7 linked regions of the Homo sapiens genome follow. The protein of the gene in region 3 interacts with the protein of the main gene of each other region in a biochemical or structural test. Each region holds a gene or a part of one and is shown on either strand. Other genes may lie near its edges. The genes, in order: OGT, ERCC3, GTF2E1, GTF2B, GTF2A1, TRIM24 and TLE5.

Region 1 (3,500 bases), on a different chromosome or scaffold from region 3:
TATGTACATTTGAGTGACTTTTTGTAAGTTTTATTGCAATACTAATCTAGCTAGTTACCCACATAAAGTTTTAGGGAGCCTGGTATGTACTGCCACTGGGCCTTGGACCCCATTTTTCCCAGGGCTCAGGGCTCACCTCTGTACCCAGTTGTCACAGTAAGTTCTTTACCTTTATTAATCAGGTTGATTCTACTCTTATTGATAGTGTACCCTCTTACACAGCTGTGGTTCTTGCCATCTTTAACTCTAATGCCCTTGGCTCAGGTTTCCAGTTGCCTATGTGTGTAGCAGAGCAGTCATTGCTACTGATAGTGTACCCAAGCAGTAGGACTATGCTGAGAAGGAAAACTAAAGTGAGAGATGGAACCTTGCTATTTAATATCTAACCTGCTGTTAGCAGGAAGCTTATTGTTGTACCCTACCAAGGAAGTGAGATAGTACTAAAATAAATCATGGGATTACCTCTTGAATGCATTGAATGGCCATGTGTTGTCATCTGGTTCTATGTTTCTTCTAGTGGAAGGTGCTGCTTTACTTATTTATTACTGTTTTTACCAATAAGAATGAAAATGGGATTGTGCAAGTTCCCTTGATTTCAACTAAACATGCCATAGTGATCATATTTTAATTTATTTCAGGATATCTAAAGTCTTAACTAGATTTAAACTTACTGTCAAATGCCCGTTGTCAGTTCAGTACTGGTAGAACCTTGCGTCTGTTCCTTATGTTCTTGTTGACAGTGCTTAAATGCATCATTAGTACATTGTGTACCTGAATCATAGATGTAGTTGGCATTCTATGAAAAATGGTTAAAGAAACTCAGGTTATTTTGGTTTTGCAGCAGTGAAAGAGTAGAATGTTAAGGTGGTATCTTTGGTAACCTTGGTAACTGTTTTCAACAGTGTTTATCTTTTTAAGTTAATAGATATGTCAATTTAGAAGTTGTTCTCTGTGACTTGATTATAGAAATTATCTTTGAGACAGCTATCTCATTTTTTTCATTCTGAATTATCTTCTATAATTATAATGTTGGGTGTTTTCATAATTTTGGTAAGATTTTAGTCTGTCATTTTTTTTTTTTTTTTGGAGACGGAGTTTTGCCCTTGTCACCCAGGCTGGAGTGCAGTGGCGCGATCTCGGCTCACTGCAACCTCTGCCTCCTGGGTTCAAACGATTCTTCTGCCTCAGCCTCCGAAGTAGCTGGGATCACAGGTGCCCACCACCATGCCTGGCTAATTTTTTGTATTTTTACAAAAACAGGCTTTCACCATGTTGGCCAGGCTTGTCTTGAACTCCTGGCCTCAACAGATCCGCCTGCTTCAGCCTCCCAAAGTGCTGGGATTACAGGCGTGAACCACTGTGCCTGGCAGTCTGTTGTATTTGAAGGTGTTATTGCAGATAGCACCTTGCAGTGACAGCACATGTTCTTTGACATGGTGACTCACTAGAGTTGCCTATACCTGGCAATTCCTTTTGCAAATTATGTATAAAATTGTCCTTTCTGTAACGGCTATAACCCTGAGTTGTTTTAAACAGGTCTGTTTCTGAATCTATAGGTTGTTGAATTGTTGCTTGTGCTTTGATTGTGGATGCACAGAATGGAGAGCTGCTGGCATCCTGGCCATCATGTGTGTTCCTGTCATGTTATTTGTTACTTGTTACTGCTGAGCCTCTCTTATACAGCTGCACTGTAGAAAACCATATATTTCGATTCTTCTCTGTTCTGCTTTCTGTTGTATATTTCGATTCTTCTCTGTTCTGCTTTTTGTTAAGGTTGCTGTGCAAATGTCACATTTAAATATGTGAGTGCTTATTGTGCATACAATGCTTTGTTAGGAAATGGGGAGATGTGTTGTGGGGGAAGTTGCGGGTTATAATATAAGACAGGACCTGACCCGTAAAGGAAAAAATGGTGTAAGTTCCTTGGATGATAATTGTTGGAGAGTATTAATCAGAAGATTTCCTCGAGTGGGTGCTTATGACCTAAGCATTCTGTAGGAAGGTAAATAGCAAGTAGACTTCCTTGGCTGAAGTGGTGAGTCAAGTAGTAACAAGAAGTGAATGTAGTAGAGGAGAGTCAATTGGAAGATTTATAAAGAATAGAGAGGCTGAGGAGTTTGAATTTAATTTGAGAGGCAATTGAGAATTACTGTAGGTTTTTATCGACCTGATTTTACTTCATATGTATGTACGTGTCTAGATGTTGTGGCTGGTGGGGGTGGGAGGCTCTAGGAGGAAAGGCAGGAAACTGATGCAATCTTAGGAGAAATAGTTCTACAGGAAAATCTTGCTCATTTCTATCTCCTTTTATTCTCACGATTTTCCCTTGTATACAGTGCCCTCCTCCTTTGTCTATTAAAACCCTACTCATCCTTCAAGGCCCAGCTTAAACTTCTCTTATGAGCTCATCATCTAGTTCTCTTAAAATTCTTTACTACTGAGTGGGCATTTAGTGTGTGCCTTGTCTTTTCACATAGATTGTAAGCCCCTTGATGATAAGGATTCTATATCTTTTCCCTATAGTTCCAGGCATGTTATTGAATTGAGTAACAGTTTGCCTGAAATGTATTAACCTGGGATGGATAAAATGGGCTAGTTTTGAGAAATATAATTGTCAAAAACATTTTGATTTGACAGATGAAGCAGAAGTGATGTCTTGGGTTTTGAACTTTTGGGAGAATGGTGGTGCCCGTGCGTTTTCTAGAAATTAGCTGTTCATGCACATAGGTTTGGATCCCCAAACAGGAGAATTGGATTTCACCGTTACATTTAATATGATGTTTTAGCTTTTCCTAAAACTGCCTTATTGATTATCTTATAGTAATCTTGAAGATAATGTATTTTTAACTATGAGCATTGTGTTAACTTGATATAGTATACTGTAATGGATCTAGATGATAACAAAATATAGATATGCTGTCAGGACTTAAGTGGCATCCATCCAAGAGTTCATAGAAACTAGAGGGTAATAAAATTACGCAACAGCTGGCTACTATGTATGGCCATTACAGTCATTGTTGGAGAATTATTGCAAGACTTCTGATTATTATGACTTAGAAAAGGCATAGGAATTGGTAAAAGTCCAAACATGTATAACCACAATTATCAAGTAGTAGAAGGAGCTTGTATGCATGGATTGGATTATGCAGTCATGGTCTGCCAAAACAGGGGTAACCCTTTCAGTTTAGAAAAAAACATAACCATACAAAGTAGATAGCAAGATTATATAATTCATTACTTCTGAGAGTATAGTGTTAAAAAGTGCTCAGGCTAATTAGAGGAGAAGTCAAATAAGATTAATGGTACCTTTGATGTTTTGAGGATTAGTATTAGCCTTTTGTGCTTGAAGTGATGGGAGACAACCTTACTCTCTAGAACATCAGTCATTGCTTGAAGGACAGTATTGAGTCAGGGAGATGATGGAACTGACCCAGTATGGCTGACCGTAAGATTGTTGTGTGGCAGCCTGTACTTTGTTGGCAGACTTTTTGGTTCACCTG
Region 2 (3,500 bases), on a different chromosome or scaffold from region 3:
GAAACCCCATGGTAACAGCTGGTGGTGTCTCTAGTCCTAGACAGCAAGCAGGCCAGAACAGAGTAAGCGAATGGAGTGCTGGTGGGGATCCCACTGGGGAAACAGAAAAACAGAACTGAGAAATTACCTGACCCTACTGAGTTTATGGTTATGTGAAGACTTTGGAGGGGAATAATTATTCAATGCACAGAAAACCAAGCAAAAACAATGACAAGGCAATTATTAACTCCAAGGCAAAAAAACATTTACAAAAAAGAAAATGTAAGGCCGGGCATGGTGGCTCACACCTGTAATCCCAGCACTTTGGAAGGCCGAGGCAGGCAGATCACGAGGTCAAGAGATCGAGACCATCCTGGCCAATATGGTGAAACCCTATCTCTACCAAAAATACAAAAATTATCCAGGCTGTGGTGGCGGGTGCCTGTAGTCCCAGCTACTCAGGAGGCTGAGGCAGGAGAATCACTTGAACCCACAAGGCAGAGGTTGCAGTGAGCTGAGATAGCGCCACTGCACTCCAGCCTGGCAACAGAGCAAGACTCCGTCTCAAAAAAAAAAGGAAAATGTAATAGTACTCTACAGCTCTGCCTGAACATACTTACACAGTCAAAATAATGTAACTGAATATTAAAGTAACCCCCAACTTGTGCTATTCCCATATTGGGAGAATGGTAGGAGAGAAAACAGGAGTGGGGAGAGTGGTGTATGTAAGAAAGCTAAACCCTCAACTCCTACAGTAGGAAGTTAATAGGCAATTTCTATAACTGATCATCAAGAAATTACTACATAAGCTATTGCTTAGAAAGATGAAGGCTGGCCAGGTGTGGTGGCTCATGACTCTAATCCCAGCACTTTGGGAGGCCAAGGCAGGAGGAACTGCTTGAGCTCAGGAGTTTGAGACCAGCCTGGGCAACATAGCAAAACCCCATCTCTACAAAAAACAAAAATTAGCTGGGTGTGGTGGTGCGTGCCTGTAGACCCAGCTACTCGGGAGGCTGAGGTGGAAGGATTGATTGAGCCCAGGGGGTCAAGGCTGCCGTGAGCCGTGATTACACCACTGCACTACAGACTGGGTGACACAGTGACACCCTAACTCCAAAAAAAAAAAAAGAAAAAAGGAAGAAAGAAAGAAATATGAAGGTAAACAACAAAAAAGAGTCAAAAGCGGCTGTCTTCAAGGAATAGAATTGTGGGTGGGAAAATAGAAGCAGGGAATTGCTGTTTTTCACAATAATCTAAATGTTGACTTGGATTAAAAAGTCTTTCTAAATTAAATAAAGGTATAATTTTAGAAACTTAAGAAATTTAATCTTTCTATGAGTTTGTCTTCCCTTCTATAAAATGGGAACAACATTTTATATGGCTGAAGTGAGGATTAAGTAAAACCTATGTATAGTACCCATAGCACATAGCTTGACCTGTCTCCATAGAGGGCCTGGCCTTCTGCAACACTTACAGCACCTGAAGTCCTGTGTCACTGTAGGAGCAAGCGCAGACCTCTTCCTCCTTACTTGGCAGAGCTTTACAAAAGCCAGGTTTTAAGCACAAATATTTGGGTGGAGCCATGGGTTGATGAGGATACTGCGTGGGCATTTCTAAGCTCCTTCCAGATGCCAGTCCGTACTTGGGATGCCAGCCCAGCCCATCTTGCCTTCCCAGCCCCTAGGCCATCCAGTCTGGCCTCCTCTCCACCCACAGAGCTCACACAGCCCAAAGCTCCAAATGCCAACTCCCACCCACCTTTGGAGCCCAGATCTTCCATGGGGCCCCACCCAGCTCAGTCCAAGTCTCTGCTCCCTGTTCTTTGGGCTCAAGGTGACTAGCCCCCCTTTTCTCTATGCTCTAACCTCTGACTCCAACCACCTACTTCAGGTCTTCCCTGGTTTCTGAGACCAGGGCCACAGAACAAGATCTTTGGAGCCCAAGAAGTTCCTGAGAGAAAAACAAAAAAACAAAACAACAGCCACCTTCTGCACTCTCAATGGGGAAGAGAAACTGGCCTGGAGGAAGCTCCAAGTTTTCAATTCTTACTTGTTCAGTCGAATGGCATATTCCTTTAGGGCAAACACATTGTCAGCAAAGACAATAATCTTGTCATTCCTCCTTTCATGAAACTTGATCAGAAACTGGCAAGCTCTAAATTTGTTGGGGTTCATGGTGTACAGCAAGATTCGTTTCTTGGTTTTGATTGCCACATATTCCCGGTAAAATTCAGGAGACATAGGGCACCAGACCTGTAATACAGTAAGAACCAGGGGTCATTTTACAAGTTTAAACACCACACAATTTAAAACTTTTGAAGACCTTTCTCTAGCAGAATTAGCTTTAAAACAAAACCAGTCAGGTGCAGTGGCTCATGCCTGTAATGCCAGCAGTTTGGGAGGCTGAGGCAGGCAGATCACTTGAGGCCAGGAGTTCAAGACCAGCCTGGCCAACACAGTGAAACCCAGTCTCTACTAAAAATACAAAAATTAGCTGGGTGTGGTAGTGCATGTCTGTAATTCCAGCTACGCAGGAGGCTAAGGCAGGAGAATCACTTGCCCAGGAGGCGGAGGTTGCAGTGAGCCAAGATCACGCCACTGCACTCCAGCCTGGGTGACAGAGTGAGACCCTGTTTTAAAAAAAAAAAAATGCTATGTGAATTAGAAATCAGTACAACTGAAAATAAATGCATGCACAAAACTAAACCCAACCTAATACCTCCTATTGAACTGGACGTTTTCACATGTTAACCACTTAAAAGATTTTTAAATGCAATCACATCCAGGGAGTTATTTTCACACCAGCTGCAAGTGTGCGAAACCAGATTCTCAATTGGTAGTGTCAGCAATTCTTCCATTTAAGCCACACTTCCACACACGAGTCAGCACTGCTACTGAGTACCGCCACCTCTTCACACACTTCCCAGCAGGGCTGGGAGCATATCAGTTAGGCGCTTGGGGCTATCAGAGCAAAGCCCTTTGCTGCCAGGCTCCCAGGCAGCACTGTGGTATCAGGGGCCTTCATTCATCCCTGTGCCCTGAATGCTAATCCTCACCCACAGAAATCCATGACTGGTAAACCCCATGGCTAGGAAAAAGAATCATCACAAATTCAGGGGTATGTGAGATATGTGACAAGACAGAAGATATGCAGCAAGTGGGTCTAGTACCACCCAACCACAGGGTGACTGAGGATCCTGTATGAAGTGGTAGCAGGTGAGCCTAAGTCCTGACCTGTGTCTGCCCATGAGGAATCGATCTGATCACTCCCCTGCCCATAGGAGGAGGCCCTTTCCCAGACGCCCCCAGCCCAGGCCCAGCTACCTCAGCACACTGGACTTTGGCGATGTAGCCATTATTCTGCAGCTCCATCCAGTTGGCTTCGTAGAGCTTAGGCCCAATCAGAAAATTTAAATCCACAATTTTGTCATCTTCGCGGACGAGGGTCGCAGTCAAACCCAGCTTACAGTGGGCCTGCACGATGGTGAGCACCCTTCGGAACATCTTGGCTGAGGAAACAAT
Region 3 (3,500 bases):
CTGTAAAATGAGGTGATAAAAGCATCTACTTTCTAAGGTTCTGAATAAAAACATATAAGATAATGTCTATGAAGAATCGACTAGAGTAGCTGGCATAACAGAAAATCAAAACATGGCTCTTTATCTCACTCAAGGTAAAAGCCAAAAGCTTTGCAATGGCCTATAGGGTCCCACATCATCTGGAATCCTTCCTGATCATCTACCTCTTACTTCTTTCCCCTGCTCATTCTTGTCTAGCCACAGTAGCCTCCATGGTATTCCTTGTACATATCAGACACACTCCTACCTCAGGGCCTTTGCATTACCTGTTCCCTCTGCCTGGAATATTTTTCCTTTAGGTACTCACACAGCTAACTCCCTTCCATCTTTCATGTCTTTATTCAAATGTTACCTTTTAAATGTATCCTATCCCTACATTCCCAATGCTCTATTTTTCCCCCATAGCACTTATTTCCTAACATAATGAATAACTTACATCTATTGTCTTTGTCACCCCCTTTCCAAGGATGTAGGTTCTACCACAACAGATATTTATCTTGTTTATTCATGGATATATCCCATTTACCTAAATAGTACCTGCCACTCTGTTAGGCACTGAATAAACATCTGACAAATGAGTGAATAAATGTGAGTTTTATTTTCATGAAGCAAACTAAGCATACTTAAAACTCTTTATAAAAAAAGAATCTAATTTTAGGAATGAAGCTTCTCTCACCACACACCTCCTATCATTTTGTGTACATATCTTACCTGATATACTGCAGATGAAATATTTAAGAAAACCATCTGCATTCTGCATTCTGATACTACTACCAAACATACTGCCATTTAAAATACATAAAAAGATTAAAAGTATTGTTTGGAACCTGACTCCCTGATTCAAATCCTAACACTATTTAGCTGTATGATTCTGGCCAAGTTATTTCATCTCTCCGCTTCAATTTTCTCAAGTACAGAAAGGGGGAAAATAGTATTTACTTCACTAGATTACTGTGGGGATTAAGTGAATGTCTGTGAAGTGTCTAGAATGGGCCTGGCACTTAGAATAGTGTTATCTATCATCATCGTCATCAAGAGAAGACTCAGAAATGGTCAATTCTGACTATGGATAAAGTGAAAGCATCTTCTCATTAACACATTAAAATGAATTAGCTAAATCCCTGGACATTTTAGAAGGCACAGAACTCCTAAAATGAGATACTGAGCAGATAAGAGAGAGAAAGGGAAACAGAAGCAGACAAGTTAAAAGTTTAGGTCAGAGAAAAGAGGCTTTTGATAACATGACTGTCAAAATGAGAGTTAAAATCAAACTTAACTACTTCAAAATATTGTCAAAGGCTGAACCTCCTCCTTAGAGCTTACTGCCAATGCAGCACTACAACAGAAAGAAAAGAAGGTAAGGAATGCATGCAAGCCTTTAAGACAATAATTGCTTCTAAAAGAATGTTCCAAATAGTTTAATAATATCAACACAGTATTTTGATTAATGTTTAAGTATTAAATTAGGGAAAAAGAAAATTAGTTTTGTAAACTAAATTAAGTCACACGTAACAGATTTCTGACAAGGGTCTTGAGAGGTTTGGAGAAAAAAGAATTATTCTGTTACAGATGAAGACAGAAAACAAAAAACAAGGATAAATGAGCAAATTTCTGGATGGTAAAGTAGAAACAGTGGTTCTAGGAACAGCCTTTTTCAACAGAGTTATAAATTACAAAGAAGATGTATACTGGGAAACTATATTCACGGAATTGATGCTAAGCAATTGTGGGTACTGAAAGGCCAAGTTGCAGCAAAAAAATATAGGAAGAGCTGAAGGTTGTATACGTGGGCAGAAAAGTAGCAGATCTATTTCTATTTCAGCAAGTGCAAGAAAATCAGCCTGCAGAAAAATAATCTAAAATATACTGAAAGATATGATCCAAGCTATTGGATTCAAGGCACAGAAGAACCTAAAAAGTACCTCTACGTGTTTCTAGAAGTTTTTGGTCTTAACATGCTTCCAGAACCAAAGCAACAAACAAAATCTCAAGTAAAAACCAGAAAGATACTGGAAATAAAACTCAAATCAATGGTGAATCCATGCATGAACAACATGTATCATTCTGGTCACTATGTCTCAAGTAAAGTATATTACAATTAGAGATGGTCCAGAAAAAGACAAAAATAAACAAAAACTGTAGGAGGTGGCAGCAGTGGAAAAGAGAACTGTTTAAGGAAAACAGAATCAAAAGGAATTAGAACTTTCTTCAGTATAGTAATGAGAACATGATTGAAGTCGATACAATTGTGAAAGATATCAACATGACTTGAAGTTTGAGGAAAATCAAGTGTTAAGACCCACTTCATACATTCACTGGATAGAGTCTGCTCTACTATCAAGAAACTTAGGATAAATTCAGACATGACAACATACTATCCTATTTTATGCAGAAATAAATATTTACAAAACTTAAGTAGACCAGATAACTTATTTAAGGCCCATATGATTCATATTCTATCATTTTAGGAACTGTAAACTAGAATGTTAAACTTATGAGCTTAATATATAATGTTGGTTAATAATAATTTTATTTTATTCAGTTTTCTTCCTAAGTTCAAAGAAAAGAAGGCTGCTTTAAGAACAGGCAAGAAGCCAAGTTGGGGAAAACAAATTTATTAAGTAGTAGTATAGCCTAACTACTGTATAATCTAAAACAACTTCAATCTAAATAACACAACAGGCTGGGCACAGTGGCTCATGCCTGTAATCCCAGCACTTTGGGAGGCCGAGGCAGGCAGATCACTTGAGGTCAGGAGTTTGAGACCAGCCTGGACAACATGGCAAAACCCCGTCTCTACTAAAAATACAAAAATTAGCTGGCCATGGTGGCTTGCGCCCAATTCCAGCTACTCAGGAGGCTGAGGCAAGAGAATCACTTGAACACGGAAAGCAGAGGTTTCAGTGAGCCAAGATCGCACCACTGTACTCCAACCTAGGCAACAGAGCGAGACTCCGTCAAAAAAACTAACATGGCAGGCTAATCAGTGAGGAAGAAGGAGGGTAAAGTATGGTTGCCTTGGAAAACCTTTTCTTATTAAAATTAATATATCAAAGAGAATCACAGTAGAGGTATTAGCTGCTTTACCATCACTACCAAACTCCACGTTACCTTCACAATTTCTAGTATATACATATACTAAATGCTAATTATGAAGGGAAAAGAGGCTAGGAGAAACGCCAAAAAACAAGTGGTTTTCAGCTACTGATTATTCTTTGGCACTAACATATCACCAAACTCACGTGATATGTTAGTAATGATATATTAACTTGGGAGTAGCGGCACATTGATTGTTACACTGATAAAATTCAGCAAGAAATAGAGACACCCTTCCTCTCTACTTTCCAGCTTGAGTCATCGTCATCCATTTTTGCCTCCCATTTTCTACATACTCCTAAACCATCATCACTCAAAGTCTTGAATGCAGTAACTTAGACTAAAACTTAGAAAGTAAAATCTTG
Region 4 (3,500 bases), on a different chromosome or scaffold from region 3:
GCCGAGGCGGGTGGATCACCAGGTCAGGAGATCGAGACCATCCTGGCCAACATGGTGAAACCCCATCTCTACTAAAAATACAAAAAATTAGCCAGGCGTGGTGGCATGCGCCTGTAGTCCCAGCTACTCAGGAGGCTGAGGCAGGAGAATCGCTTGAACCCAGGAGGAGGAGGTTGCAGTGAGCCGAGATCGCACCACTGCACTCCAGCCTGGCGAGAGAGCAAGATTCCATCTCTAAATAAATTAATAAATGATGTTTAAAAATCCATTTTAATAAAGCATTCATAATACTTAACCAAATACTGTCTCAAAAAAAAAGTGGGAGCTAAAGTCAGTAACAAGCAACAATAAAAATGATTACTAGTACTTACTACCTTACAGGGTTGTCAATGTTTTAAAGGGTTTAACTAACATAAAATATATGAATAGTGTTCAGGTCTTAGTATTAGGAGTGTTATCATCTTATACTGGGTATTGTATTTACAACTGACTCCTCCTTTTTCTTTATAAATCTTTCTGAGGATCACAAAAGTACTCCACAAATATGTTCTTGTAAAGAAATTCACTTTATATTTCTGTGTTTGAAAGCTCCCATGCAAAATCTCCCCTAGCTAACTTCTGTTAAGGGGTCCTTATTAAAAACAAAATGTGATACTATAAATATTGTTCTACAATCTTTTTTTCTACTTAATACATCAGAGATCAAACAGCTACTTATTATAGCATACGGAGATGTTTTTCACTGATACAAGCACATACTTAAATATTTTGAGCTCAAACGAACATTGTACAGAATCCTAACAGATCCACTTTTACCCTTTAAAGTCGCTGTCCCTTTTTTCCTTTCAAAGTCATTAAAAGAAATACTAAAGGACTGCCACTACAATGTTTGGTTAAGTATTATGAATGCTTTATTAAAATGGATTTTTAAGCATCATTTATTTATTTATTTAGAGATGGAATCTTGCTCTGTCACCCAGGCTGGAGTGCAATGGCAAGATCTCGGCTCACTACAACCTCTGCCTCCCCGGTTCAAGCAATTCTCCTGCCTCAGCCTCCTGAGTAGCTGAGGCACCTGCCACCATGCCCAGCTAATTTTTGTATTTTTAGCAGAGGCAGGGTTTCACCATGCTGCCCAGGCTGGTCTCAAACTCCTCACCTAAGGTGATCCACCTGCCTCAGCCTCCCAAAATGCTGGGATTACAGTCATGAGCCACCACGCCTGGCCTAAACACCTTTTAATACAAATTCATTTTACTACCTTTTCAGTTGATTCAAATCAGTGAGGTTTTAGTGATTTTCACTGTGAATGCCTGCCATCATTGTACAATTAGCTAATTTTAAATTTCCGTATCTCACACTGCATTACATTATTCTACATCTAAATACCAATAAATGCCAACTATTTGAATGTCAACTGCCTGCTGTGCAGGGAAGAGAAAGACCTTACATTTGAAGAAGACTTTACATATAAAGCCAAAAAGCAGAAAGCAACAAGATTAATGTTTTCATGTTGTTCATTAGAATAAACTTTACAACTAGGAATGTACCTCAAGGACAAACTGCCTAGCTGCAACTTCTCAATTTTACTAAAAGACTCAAAATTTCCTTAAAACGTGAGTGAAGGCCAAAGGGAATGGATAATGGCTCCTTCAAATAACTAATGATTGGCTTTCTTTCTCTAATTATTCCTATCATTTATTACTTTTTTCAACATATAGCCTAAGCTGAAGGCTGTTGTGAATAAAGTATTACAAAGTTATTGAGGCCAGTAATTCACTTTCTGTTTTTGTTTTTTTTTTTTTTTTTTGAGACAGTCCTGTCTCCCAGACTGGAGTACAGTGGTGCAATCTAGGCTCACCGCAACCTCTGCCTCCCAAGTTCAAGAGATTCTTGTCTCTTAGCCTCCCGAGTAGCTGGGACTACAGGTGTGCACCACCATGCTGGGCTGATTTTTGTATTTTTAGTAGAGATGGGGTTTTGCCATGTTGGCCAGGCTGGTCTTGAACTGCTGGCCTCAAGCAATCCACTCACCTTGGCCTCCCAAAGTGCTGGGATTACACAGGTGAGCCACCGCGACCTGCCACCAACTTTTCTTTTTTTTGAAAAAGAGCCTCACTCCATCAACCCAGGCTGGAGGGCAGTGGCATGATCTCAGCTCACTACAACCTCTGCCTCCTAGGTTCAAGTGATTCTCCTACTTCAGCCTCCCTACTAAATGGGATTCAGATATGTGCCACCACACCCGACTAATTTTTTTGTGTTTTTAGTAGAGACAGGGTTTTGCCATGTTGGCCAGGAGGCTGGTCACCGCACCTAGTTTATGAATTTCTTTACATGCATTTGTTCATGAATAACTTCTGTAATCCTCAAAGACTTAGAAAGGAGTAGTCACTTCTAACTTTAAAAGGGAGTTAGTGGGCCATGTGTGGTGGCTTGTGCCTATAATCCCAGCACACTGGGAGGTGGAGGCAGGCGAATCACATGAGGCCAGGAGTTCGAGACAAGCCTGCCCAACATGGTGAAACCCCATCTCTACTAAAAATACAAATATTAGCTGGGCGTGGTGGCACGTGGCTGTAGTCCCAGTTACTCAGGAAGCTGAGGCATGAGAATAGCTTGTCCGGGAGGTGGAGGTTGCAGTAAGCTGAGATTGTGCCACTGTACCTCCAGCCTGCGCAACAGAGGGAGACTGTTTCAAAAACAAAAAAAAAAAAAAAAAACAAAAAAAAAAAAGGAAAAGAAATTCACTTAATACTTCTGGTGAAAGTTTTCCTACAACACTAAATTTAAACATAGCTTTAGAAGGCTGAATTACTTACATCTACTTATTTCAGAATTTGTATTAAGAAACTGTAAAATACTGTGCAAAATGGGAAAAAACCAACCTTCACAGAATGTTAAAGGCTGATGGCCAACACGTATTTTACAGTGTGTCTATCTGTAGAATCCCATGCCAAGCAGTGAGAAACAAAGCATGGCCTCCCTGACCCCTAAGATTTAAAAAGGTAAGTTTGGAAAGGAAAAGAGTATTCAAAATGATCAGGAGGAATATATTCAGGGAGAAAAAAGAACTTGTAAGAATAAAAGATGTACAAACTAAAATAATTCAAATGGGAAAAAAATTAGGTTTGTTCACAGGGTTATGTCTCTGAACATTTTTTTTATGAGCTGCTTAAAAAGCAAAACATATTTTCTTAACATTTTGACGTTGAGGAATGATGTCTTAAACGTGGGTTTTTTTTTTTTTTTGAGATGGAGTCTTGCTCTGTTGCCCAGGCTGGAGTGCAATGGCACAATCTCAGCTTGCTGTAACCTCCACCTCCCAGGTTCAAGCAATTCTCCTGCCTCAGCCTCCTGAATAGCTGGGATTACAAGCCCCACCACCACACCCAGCTAATTTTTGTATTTTTAGTAGAGATGGGGTTTCACCATGTTGATCAGGCTGGTCTCGAACTCCTGACCTTAGGTGATCCTCCCGCCTCGGCCTTCCAAAGTGC
Region 5 (3,500 bases), on a different chromosome or scaffold from region 3:
ACAGTTTACTAATTCAAATTGACATCTCAATCTACTTATCTTTAAGGTACAGAATTTAGCATCTTTTTGTTGTTGTTAAATGGAATTCTCATTAACAATGTAAAGCATTTTCCTTTCTAAATTGTATTTTATTCAATTATCTATAACAATGCCATATACTAGTAAGCAAAGCAAGCAACATTTTTTTTTAAATAACATCTTTAATTAAAGTTTTTGCAAAGTAGAATATTAAACTTAAAATAGGTCTTAGTACATCAAAATACTAAGTTCTCTAATTGTATTCCAAGATGGTCTTTAAAACATAATATCCCATATATCACAGAAGAGCAACCTTGATCTGCAATGAATTTTACAAACATAATAAATATATTTACGCCATTACACATAACAGTATGTACAACAGCAGTTGACAATAGTAGCTCAGAACAGCAAAAAGGATTAGCCCCGCCCCCCAAGTCATAGTCCTGATGTAGACTGGACTGATTAAGGAACCTTGACTGAAAGAGTAGTTACTAACTCAATGTGTAGTAACTTCCCTTAAAAGAGAAAAGTTTTTTTGTTCCTCAAAATAAACAAAAATGTTAGTTTGGTGTGTTCTTCATTAAACCATAGACAATGACAAAAGACAAGAGTAAGGCAGGCTTAAAAAGGGAACAATATAAACTTCGTAATAATTTTCATAGCATAATAGAGGACTAAAATGCAAAGCTATTTAACAAACTCATGAGGAAACAAGTAAAGCAACTATTTTTTAACTAAAGAATTCAAAATCTGCTATAGCTGATTCTGACAGGTAGGTGAGAGAAAGACATGAAATAAAATGAAAATGTACAAAGATGGATCAACAAACTATTACATTGCACAAAAGCTTAAAAAAAAGAAAGTTCAAGATGAAATAATCGGAAAAACAGGAATTTTCTCAAGTAGAAGAAAATGCTAAGTCATAAAGAGAACTCCCAAGAGGAAATTATGTCTGTTTTCCTATACAAGGGGTATTTACCCTCTGATAAGAATGGTGACATTATTGCTATGAGAATCAAAAATAGTATACTCTTAGAGGGAGACAACTCTTTTCATTCCTCCATAAAAGCCAGGAAAAAAAAAATCTGTGACTTTCATTATAGCAAAAGAAAATATTCATATAAAAGCTATATGTTATTTCCTAAAACCAGAATCTATTATGCTCATTAAGCACACATTTTAATTACTACACACTGCTCAAGTCTTGATGTAATCTTAGAACAAGAAAGTGGCTTTGCTTTTAAAAGAGGCAACAGTGTAAATGTGACATTATGATGGCATTTTAATTAACAGAAAGAAATGTGAACATTTAAAAAATAGAAAAGCCCAACATAAAGATCCCCCTCACATAACAGACATTTTACTCTAGAAATTAATTGCACATTAAAGAGTTGTTTTAGCCATATGTGGCACTCCACAGAAATTAAACATGCTCTCAGGCATTCAAATGGTCTGATTACCCAAATGGCCACCAAGCAAGAGTTTGTATACTGAAAGGCACACATTTCCATGTTTTATCTTGTAATTTTGTGTAAATTTTCCTTAGCACTGTTGATTAATGTTAATTTAAGTAAAAGGTGCCATCGCCATCTGTGCAAATCTAAACAAATCCTCTCCAGAAACCATTACTTATTTTCATAATACCAAGTCCGAACTATTTTCTGCCTTTAGATAAACATGCTACTTTCATTTTCAAATTCTGAAAGTGGAAATCCCTTGCCTTTTCAAAGGAATGACATTTTAATGGAACCTAATACGAAATGATTTGTTAAATACAATGTTAAAAGCATGATTAAGAATTCAAGTACAATAAAAGATAAGCAAGTGACATTCTTACAGCAAAAGCTACTATAATAAAACTAAAACATGCTATTTGATTAAAAAGGACACGATGCAAATAATATATAAGAGCACAATTTGGTATGCAATGTAGCTTGGACCAGCTTTCAGAATTTTCACAGGTAAAAGAAAAGCATTTGCCAAGTATACCATAATTCATATGCAATACGCAGGTGCAAATACAAATGGTTATTTCCTGCTTCAAAAATAACAAAATAACCACTCTGAAAGCAGTGGTTGTTAATATTTGAAAAATAAAGTTATAAAAACAGGCCAGTATACAACACTACTATGAATATGAATGTTTGTCTACATAGAGGGCCCAAGACAAGCTGAATATCATACAGTAATCCAAGTTTCAGTAGCATAAAAACTACTAGATAGCCAAAGGGTTTCACTTAAGCAACACTGCAGCACTGCTGAATTTTTATAGGTAGTTCAGGTCACTGACTTCCTTACTGAGTAAATACAAACCTACTAGCAACTATATTGAAGAACAGTTGAACAACAGCACTTCTGTGATGTTACTCCCTCCCATTTCCTCTTCTCTCAGTCTTAATAATATATATTTTAAAACCTCTGTGTGCTTTGAGAGTCACAGAATAAACAAACTTCCCCTCAAAAAACTAAATTAATATAGTCAAAATAAAAGCTGTATTACCAGTTATGGCATCTAAATAAAATCTAACTACTAGCATGCTAGACACCACCATTAACACCAAAGTTTAGAACATAAGTTAAAGAGATCAAGGTGGTAAGCTGGGTGGGAAGTAGAAAAAAAAAATTTTTGCCTTTTTTTAAAGTTAAAAGATTTGTGTTAAAAAAGAAACACTATATAATAGCTCACAGTTTTCTTCTCTGTAATGTACTTTAAAAAGTGTTCATGTGTTACTTCTGAAAACACAAAGGCAAAAGGAAGACAAAAACTGAAGATTAAAAAAATATATCAATATACAAGTAACCTAAACACATGTAAATTTTGTCAAGATAAACCATGGAAAGTTGAATTCGTTGTAAGAACACAATGGTGAAGACAAGCATTCCTGCAGTTCTCCCAGGCAGTGAATTCACACTGAACACAGCAGTGCCATATTGTTCTTCAGAGCCCCTTACAGAATACAGACCTATGCATTCTTAATATACATATTACATTTCTATTATTTTTAATATACAAGTCAAATTTCTATGCTTTCTTCCCAATGTGCAAACTGGAGCCAACGTCTTTATTTTCAATGGCCTGGAAGGGCCACCAAATGAAAGAGAGGTAACTTAGTGGCCCACCCACCTCTTCCCCCCAAATTTTCCCCTCAAATTACAAAGTTGATTTTAAAAACTTGTTGAATTAGAATAGATTTTTAAAATTCTTTACTAGTAAACACAAGAAACTTTTATAATTACTAAACTGTTTAATAAAAATCCAGGTCCTCACCACCTGCCCTATGCTAATCAATGCACAGACTGTTAACTGAATGTTTAGCTTAAAAACTAAACACATTTATAAGCACACACTTCAGCCCAACAGGAAAAGTCTACATATATTCATGTGTATACAATTTCAGCTAGATGGTATGCTTGCAAAATAAAACTATATTCCTGAGGAGCTAGTTTGGGGTTTCTTTTTAAGGTGTGGCACTAAAAGA
Region 6 (3,500 bases), on a different chromosome or scaffold from region 3:
TTAGAATAGTTGAAAACTATAAAAATATATAACATTTAAGTAGCCCATAACTTCTCCATCCATATATAAACACTGCTAAGGTTGATTGATATATCTCTTTCCAGTTTTAAACATACTTTTACATCTTTTATATGGTTCTGTATACTTGTTTTCACTAAACAGTAGTCCATGAGCATGCCATTAAAAACTCTACATAAGCATTGTCTGAATAGGTAAATAATCTGTTTACAAGTGAGCACATTCTAATTTATTTTTATCCTCATATTTGGGCACTGCTTCAAAATTTTAACTACTGCAAATAATGCCTTAATAGTAATATAAATATTAATAAATACGATCTGCCTATCCAGTTCCTAATTATTTCCTTATAATTGGCATATTAAAATGGAAATTACTAGGTTCAAGGGTACATACATTTTCCAAGCCCCTTGAAGCAAATATCCTACTAGGTAATACATATAAGGTACTTTGCCCACAGTACAATATTGGATAAATGTAAACTTTAGTAATATTGCTATGATGGTTTCCAGGAATGTTTTGCCAACTCATACCCCTTCCACCTATGTATGAGAGTACCTCTCATCACATTCTCAATGACTATTTTTATTATTTAAGTCTTAGCTAATTCAGTAACTTAGAAATTCTATCTTGTTTGATTTTTCTTATGACCACTAGTAAGAATGAATTTTTGTCTCATCTGCTATATTGGATAAATGTATTTCCTCTTTAGGGAATTATCTACTTATCATGTCCTTTGGCAATACCACATGTGTTCCTTATTTGTATAAACTTGTCATATGATAAACAGTTTCTCTGCTATATTTTGTCATAAGTTTGTTTAAAACGGGCATCCCCATTTAAATTGTGTTCATGTGACTGTTGAGTGACTTAAATTCTCTTTTCATATTTTGGTTTAAGGTACCTACGTCCTCAGAAGTAATATTAGCGTTTTTCTCTCAGAGGAAATGAGTAGGTATGTCAAGATTCACAAACACAATTAAACACCAAACAAATCACCAGAAGAGTGATTGCTACTTATTGTCACTAATACATTTTGACCCTAGGCAAATTACATCTTAAAGACCACATCACAGGCAACTTATCAACAAGAAAGAATATAACACCAATTTCCCCCTGGAAGTACTATAATGGTGAGAAGTTCTGTTGAAATTGAAAAGGTAAAGAAGGCCTAGTATGATGGCTCATGCCTGTAATCCCAAAGCTTTGGGAGGCTAAGGCAGAAAGGATTGCTTAAGGCCAGAAGTTCAAGACTGTCTCTACCAAAAAATATTAGCCACGTTTGGTAGAGCAGCATACTTACAGTCCCAGCTACTCAGGAGGCTGAGGTGGGAGATCGCTTGAGCTCAGGAGTGAGTCTGCAGTGAGCTATGATCGCACCACTGCACTCTAGCCTGGCAACAGAGCGAGACTGTGACTCAAAAGAAAGAAAGGATAAAGAAATTTAACCTTTGTTTTCTCTGAAAGCATACTAATTTTAAATAGTGAAAAACTCAGATTAAGCATTCAACAAAAAAGGAGAAGAGGGGTAATTTTTTATTCCAAGTAAAGTGAAAACTAGAAAAACTTTCACAAAAATCAAAAGAAGCCCACTTTACCTGCAAGGCCTGGAGATGGCACTGATGAATTTGGTGACTGGACCGTTCTGTTTGAGGGTGGTCTTGGCTGGCCATGATCTATATTAGTATCTTTCCTCACAATATTGTCCAGCATAATAGTACTTGAACAGTCAATCTTACAAGAAAAGAAATTATTTCAGGGCATTCTGATTTTGCAAGTTAAAAGCTACTTTTAAATTTATAAGAAAGCTTCAATAACTTAATAATTATTATCGAATAACAAAACATAGATACCACATTTGAGAAGTTCTAACAGATATTTTCCCCATAAACAACCTTGAATAAAGGTTTTCACTATCTTAGTGTTTCACCTTAGTAAAATATTGAGGACGCTATTTCAAAAACAGGAGTCAAAAGGAATATCATGTCATTCACACTCTTAAAAATTGAAAAAATTCTTATAAACGACAAAAGCTTGCCATATGAAAAACATAAACTTGGTGAGAAGACTATCACAATTTTACATTTCTTGCGAATCTCTTTAATGTCTCCCTAAACAGCATTCAATCTATTGTGGTATATGGTTTTGCTTGAAAAATATGAAGAAAATCTAGCCTCACACAGATAGATAGGACCTAGTGGATCCTCTGAAAGGGATACTTTAACAACTGATACTCTGGGTATGTGCTAAATAGACGAAGTCCATATATCTACAGCACTAACCTCACTGAATACATTACTGTTGTTTTGTAGGAGAAAAGGTGAACCCTAAAGATTCTTGCTTTAATATAACAGGAATACAAATAACACTTCTTTTCCTTATTCATTGCCAGGCAAAAATATTTACAAATCCCTAATGAGTAAGAGTTTAATACTTTAGACACAAAAATTCTTTCATGCCTACATATACCAAATTTCCCACCAATGTCTTTGGGCTTAAAATCCAGTTCAATTCTTTAACATAGTTCTACTCTTGTTCAACCAGGATTCTATAAGATAATTAAGTCCTACAGCCATAGGGCACAGTTTGTATATAATGAATCAATTTCTTGCTTATGCACCTAGAATGGTACTAGTTATGAAGCACCTTTGGGAGGAATGAGAAAACAGTCACTCATTTCAGCTTATTCTGTAATTCCTAAGAGGAATTTCAGGTAAGAAAGCCTGGTGGAAAAAGGTTCACCTGTATGAGGACTGCAGAGGAAAAAGCAGAAAGAATTTTACTTTCTGTGGGTTCGGGGGCAGGGAAATCGGGCCAGGTGGTTAATATACAGGGTCATTTTTGTTTTAATATTCTTTTGGCAATACTTGGCCAATATTTTTCAAAGAGTACAAAAAGTACTAGAATGACTAAATTCATGAGAACTTAATACAAGGAAAGTTGTTTACTTTGTGGGATAATCCTAAAAGCCAAATAAAACTATGGGGATTAGATGTAAGTTTTCCTATGAACCATCCATGCATGAGAAAATATATGTATTCTACTCATTTAAAGTATACAAAACTATTTTAAAAATGGAATGACTCTGGTAAGATTAACAATGCAACTATTAGGAAATATTAATTGATCTCAACTTGAAAAACAAATAATGAAAATAAAAAAGTTATTTTCACAATCTTATAGGTAATTTGATCCAAGTAAAGAGTACAAGATATTTCCTAAAAGCTTCTTAACATTAGGTGCGTATGTATATGTGCACGACAGTAGGTTATCTAACTTTAGATTAAAAAAAGGATCAAACACAGAATCAACTTATATATGGAGATCTGTCTACAGAATGCAGACTTTCTGCCTTTGGAATAGTCATACTGGCTGGGTGTAGTGGCTCATGCCTGTAATCCCAGCACTTTAGGAGGCCAAGGCAGGAGGATCCCTTCAGCCCAGGAGTTCAAGACCAGCCTGGGTAACATAGGGCGTCTCCC
Region 7 (3,500 bases), on a different chromosome or scaffold from region 3:
CCACTCAGGCCCCTGGCAGGTAGTAAGCGCTTGTGCGAATGTAGGGAGGGCTGGGGGCCGTAGGCTGTGGGGAAGGTCTCTGCCCCTCCCCACCACCGGGAGAAACACTCCCAGGGAGGCCTGAAAAAGAGGCGGGGCGGGGGGGAGGAGAGCGGGAGCTTGGGGAGGGCTTAGGAGGTAACAGGATAACCGGGCTGGCTTGGTGCCCAGCCGAGGGCCGGCCGCTACCTGCCTGGGGGTGCCCAAGGCGGGGCTGGAGGTGGGGGGAGGAGGGGGAAGGAGGAGGAGGAGGAGGAGGAGGAGGAGATGGGCGTACCTGTTTGTGCATCTCGATGTTCAAGCCGTAGGACATCTCGTAGTACTGTATGGGGGAGAGAGAGGGGGAGCGGGAGATGGGGGTGGGGAAGGATGGGGGGACACGGAGACAAAGAGATAGGGGAGTGGCAGAGACAGACAAAGGGGGGAGACAGCAAGAGACAGCTGAGGGCAGGAAAGAAAGGAGAGGCAGGTGGGAGGGAAAGAGGAGGGAGAGACGCCCACACCCAGCATCCCAGCCCGCCCTGGAGAGGGGCAGGGGGCCGCTGGGGCTGCGGATGGAGACTGGGGGCACTTTAGGTCCCTAGCCCTGGCCTGGCTCCTCCCCCACTCCATGTGCACCGCGAGAACACGCATTCCAGGGCTCCTAATCTTGTATCTTTCTATGTCTTGTCTGCGGGTGGGCCCAGACGCCAGGGAAGTTTGCCTGCCTAGGTATAAACAGTGAGGGGTAAACAAAGCCTGCTGGCTCTGGGGCCAGCAGCTACCCCCACCCCAAGCCCCAGATCTCACCCTGCCCCTCCCCTGCTCTAAACCCTCCCATGGCTCCCTGTCACCCCTGGGGGAAAACCAAGTTCATTCCCAGGCCTTCACGTAGTTTCTCTGTCTCTGTCTGGTGAACTCCTACTCATCCTGCAAGACCCCAGCTGTGTGCCCCATTTCTCCATATAGTCTTCCTCAGGCAGGTCCTAGGTCCCTCTCTCTGACCCCAGCCCTATTCTTCTGGCTGGGAGGGTCAGGGTCTGGCTCTGCCTCCCCCACAGTCTGGGAGATTTGGGTACTGGGCTGAGACCCCAGCATCGCTGCTCGAGGGCCAGGCCAAGGGTGGGTAAGGGAGGGGATTTTTGATGCAGAAATCGTCACCTGGCAGTTACAAAACCGAGCAAGTGGTTCTGGCAGCAGCAATGCAGTGTCACACATCAGCCCCCCGAAATGGGTAGGGCTCAGACCCCCTCCCACAGGCTTCTTCTTTGAGCTCGGGCCCAAAGGGGTTAAGCGTGTGGACGCTGGGACCTTGGCGGTGGGGAGGGACTCGGCTGCTCCCCCACGTCAGTTCCTGGCTGTTGGCTTTCACAGCCGGTGAGCCTCCCTCTCCTCCCTCCTCCGCTGCCAAGGACAGCCGGGGGACCTGGCAGGGCCGGTCTGCAACCCGGCGGTTTGGCACCTCGGCCACTGCCTCGGCCATCTGCCAGGCTAGCGAGGCAGGCTCAGCCCAGCAGGGGCCGGCTGAATGGAGAACAGGCCCCGATCCTCGCGCTTCCCAGGGGAGGTGGCCGGGGTTGAGGGAGCAGCTGCCCGTGGTGGAGGGGATGTGGAGGGCCCTGTCGCCCGCCCCCAACACTGGACCTGGGGGCGGAGTGACGTTACCATCACATAGTGACGCTGCATCTCTGACTTCTCACTGGCCAACTTGTCACATTCGAGCTTGAGGCTGAGGAGGCACAGGGGGGAGATGGGGTGGTTAGTGGCGGCTGGGCGGGAGCCCCCCACCCTCCGTTATCCAGGGGAGGAAACTGAGGCTCCAAGTCCCCTGTAAGGGCAAGATCAGCCAATTCTCAGAGGGTCAAGCAATAATTTTTTTTTTAAATTGAGACGGGGGTCTCCCTATGTTGCCCAGGCTGGTCTCAAAAACTCCTGGGCTCAAGCAATCCTCCTTCCTCGGCCTCCCAAAGTGCTTGGGGTTACAGATATGAGCCACCCACCGTGCCTGGTCAATGAAGCCGTAAACTTTCATAGGGGCTGAGGACATTGAATTGAGGGGCAGGGAAGTTGGTAAGAGTTGAGCTCTCTGTGATGCTGCGGGGAGGGGAGAGCATCAGGGCCCCTGACTGTAAGAAGGGGGTGATGAAACCACCCTTGCAGATCTGGTTGGGGGGAAATAAGCAACATTATAGTAACATTATAGGAACAACAGAAGTTAGAGGGGGCACGGTAACGCTAGCTCTGAGAGTCTCACGAGCCTTCACCTCTCACGGTCCCGACGAGGCCCGCAACGTCATTGTCACGCTCCTTTTATAGATGACACAGTGGACACCCAGAGAGGGTGAGGAACTGGCTCAAGGTCACACAGCCAAGCAGCAGCCCAAGCTCTCAACCACAGGGGAAAATTTTCCAGACCCAAATAGAACGTACAAAGAGGCTGAGAGGGTCTGGGGCTGCAAGGCGGCTCCCGGCTGGACTTCCCAAGGGGACCCTAGCTTCATGGGGGGCCTGGACTTCCCAGGCAGACCCCTCAGCTCCCTCTTAGTCCTTCCTAACAGCCTTTTTTCTTTAGCTGGGACAAAACACACCATTTCTCCCACTCCACCTGGCCAGTCCGGGTGGCTGACACCAGAGCTTCCTACAGGCCCTCCCGGGAAGGATGAGCTGTGGGGCGTTTCTCAAAGCCCCCATGAGGGCGTCATGGCCGGAGGGAAGAGAGCAGGCAGGAGGGCCTCCCAGTCCAGGAAAAGAACTGGTGATGGTGGTGGGGGAGGTGTCCTTTAACCTACTTAAATCCAACCCAGCACAGGGGCCCTGCGGACCTGGCTGTGGCTTACCTGCTTCTGCCATCCCCACCCCCTCTCGGACTGGGTTCAAAGCTCAGCCCTTCGTCTTCCCTGCTGTGTGACTCTAGGCAAACTCCACTACCTCTCTGGGCTTCATTTCCTCCTCTGTGAGGTACCACTAACAACCTCGCAGGGTGGGGTGGAGAAGAGTCAATGAATTCAGACAAGAAAAGTTCTAGAACAGTACCTGGCATACAGTAAGCATCCCATAAATGCACATGGATCTTAGGATACCCCAGGAACCTGGCATTTTGCTCCACCGGAGAAGAGTGTGCCGGGTTAGGGATGCTTTGGCCGCCACCAATTTTTCTCTAGTTTTCTTTTAAAATGTGCATTTGTTGCTACCATTAAAAACAAAAACAAAAACAAAAAAAAACCGGGGCTGGGTGCAGTGGCTCACGCCTGTAATCCCAGCATTTTGGGAGGCCAAGGCGGGTGGATCACTTGAGGTCAGGAGTTTGAGACCAGCCTGGCCAACATAACGAAAGCCCGTCTCTACCGAAAATACAAAAATTAGCCGGGTGTGGTGGTGCACGCCTGTAATCCCAGCTACTTGGGAGGCTGAAACAGAAGAATCGCTTGAATCCCAAAGGTGGAGGTTGCAGTGAGCCGAGATCGCGCCACTGCACTCCAGCC

The links.
Region 1: the proteins of GTF2E1 (region 3) and OGT form a complex in vitro, tested with the Homo sapiens proteins (one large-scale study listed by BioGRID).
Region 2: the proteins of GTF2E1 (region 3) and ERCC3 form a complex in vitro, tested with the Homo sapiens proteins (2 studies listed by BioGRID).
Region 4: the proteins of GTF2E1 (region 3) and GTF2B form a complex in vitro, tested with the Homo sapiens proteins (2 studies listed by BioGRID).
Region 5: the proteins of GTF2E1 (region 3) and GTF2A1 form a complex in vitro, tested with the Homo sapiens proteins (one study listed by BioGRID).
Region 6: of the proteins of GTF2E1 (region 3) and TRIM24, one has a biochemical effect on the other in vitro, tested with the Homo sapiens proteins (one study listed by BioGRID).
Region 7: the proteins of GTF2E1 (region 3) and TLE5 form a complex in vitro, tested with the Homo sapiens proteins (one study listed by BioGRID).

The regions. Positions count from the first base shown.
Region 1 is NC_000023.11:71,539,604-71,543,103, forward strand, and holds part of OGT (UDP-N-acetylglucosamine--peptide N-acetylglucosaminyltransferase 110 kDa subunit), read left to right. Parts: intron 1-3,500. UniProt on the Homo sapiens protein: Catalyzes the transfer of a single N-acetylglucosamine from UDP-GlcNAc to a serine or threonine residue in cytoplasmic and nuclear proteins resulting in their modification with a beta-linked N-acetylglucosamine (O-GlcNAc).
Region 2 is NC_000002.12:127,277,145-127,280,644, forward strand, and holds part of ERCC3 (general transcription and DNA repair factor IIH helicase/translocase subunit XPB), read right to left. Parts: intron 3,488-3,500; coding exon 3,303-3,487; intron 2,232-3,302; coding exon 2,029-2,231; intron 1-2,028. UniProt on the Homo sapiens protein: ATP-dependent 3'-5' DNA helicase/translocase. Binds dsDNA rather than ssDNA, unzipping it in a translocase rather than classical helicase activity. Component of the general transcription and DNA repair factor IIH (TFIIH) core complex.
Region 3 is NC_000003.12:120,777,244-120,780,743, reverse strand, and holds part of GTF2E1 (general transcription factor IIE subunit 1), read right to left. Parts: intron 1-3,500.
Region 4 is NC_000001.11:88,853,568-88,857,067, forward strand, and holds part of GTF2B (transcription initiation factor IIB), read right to left. Parts: intron 1-3,500. UniProt on the Homo sapiens protein: General transcription factor that plays a role in transcription initiation by RNA polymerase II (Pol II). Involved in the pre-initiation complex (PIC) formation and Pol II recruitment at promoter DNA.
Region 5 is NC_000014.9:81,175,960-81,179,459, forward strand, and holds part of GTF2A1 (transcription initiation factor IIA subunit 1), read right to left. Parts: 3' UTR 1-3,500. UniProt on the Homo sapiens protein: TFIIA is a component of the transcription machinery of RNA polymerase II and plays an important role in transcriptional activation. TFIIA in a complex with TBP mediates transcriptional activity.
Region 6 is NC_000007.14:138,571,759-138,575,258, reverse strand, and holds part of TRIM24 (transcription intermediary factor 1-alpha), read right to left. Parts: intron 1,753-3,500; coding exon 1,617-1,752; intron 1-1,616. UniProt on the Homo sapiens protein: Transcriptional coactivator that interacts with numerous nuclear receptors and coactivators and modulates the transcription of target genes.
Region 7 is NC_000019.10:3,055,996-3,059,495, forward strand, and holds part of TLE5 (TLE family member 5), read right to left. Parts: intron 1,748-3,500; coding exon 1,684-1,747; intron 362-1,683; coding exon 317-361; intron 1-316. UniProt on the Homo sapiens protein: Transcriptional corepressor. Acts as a dominant repressor towards other family members. Inhibits NF-kappa-B-regulated gene expression. May be required for the initiation and maintenance of the differentiated state.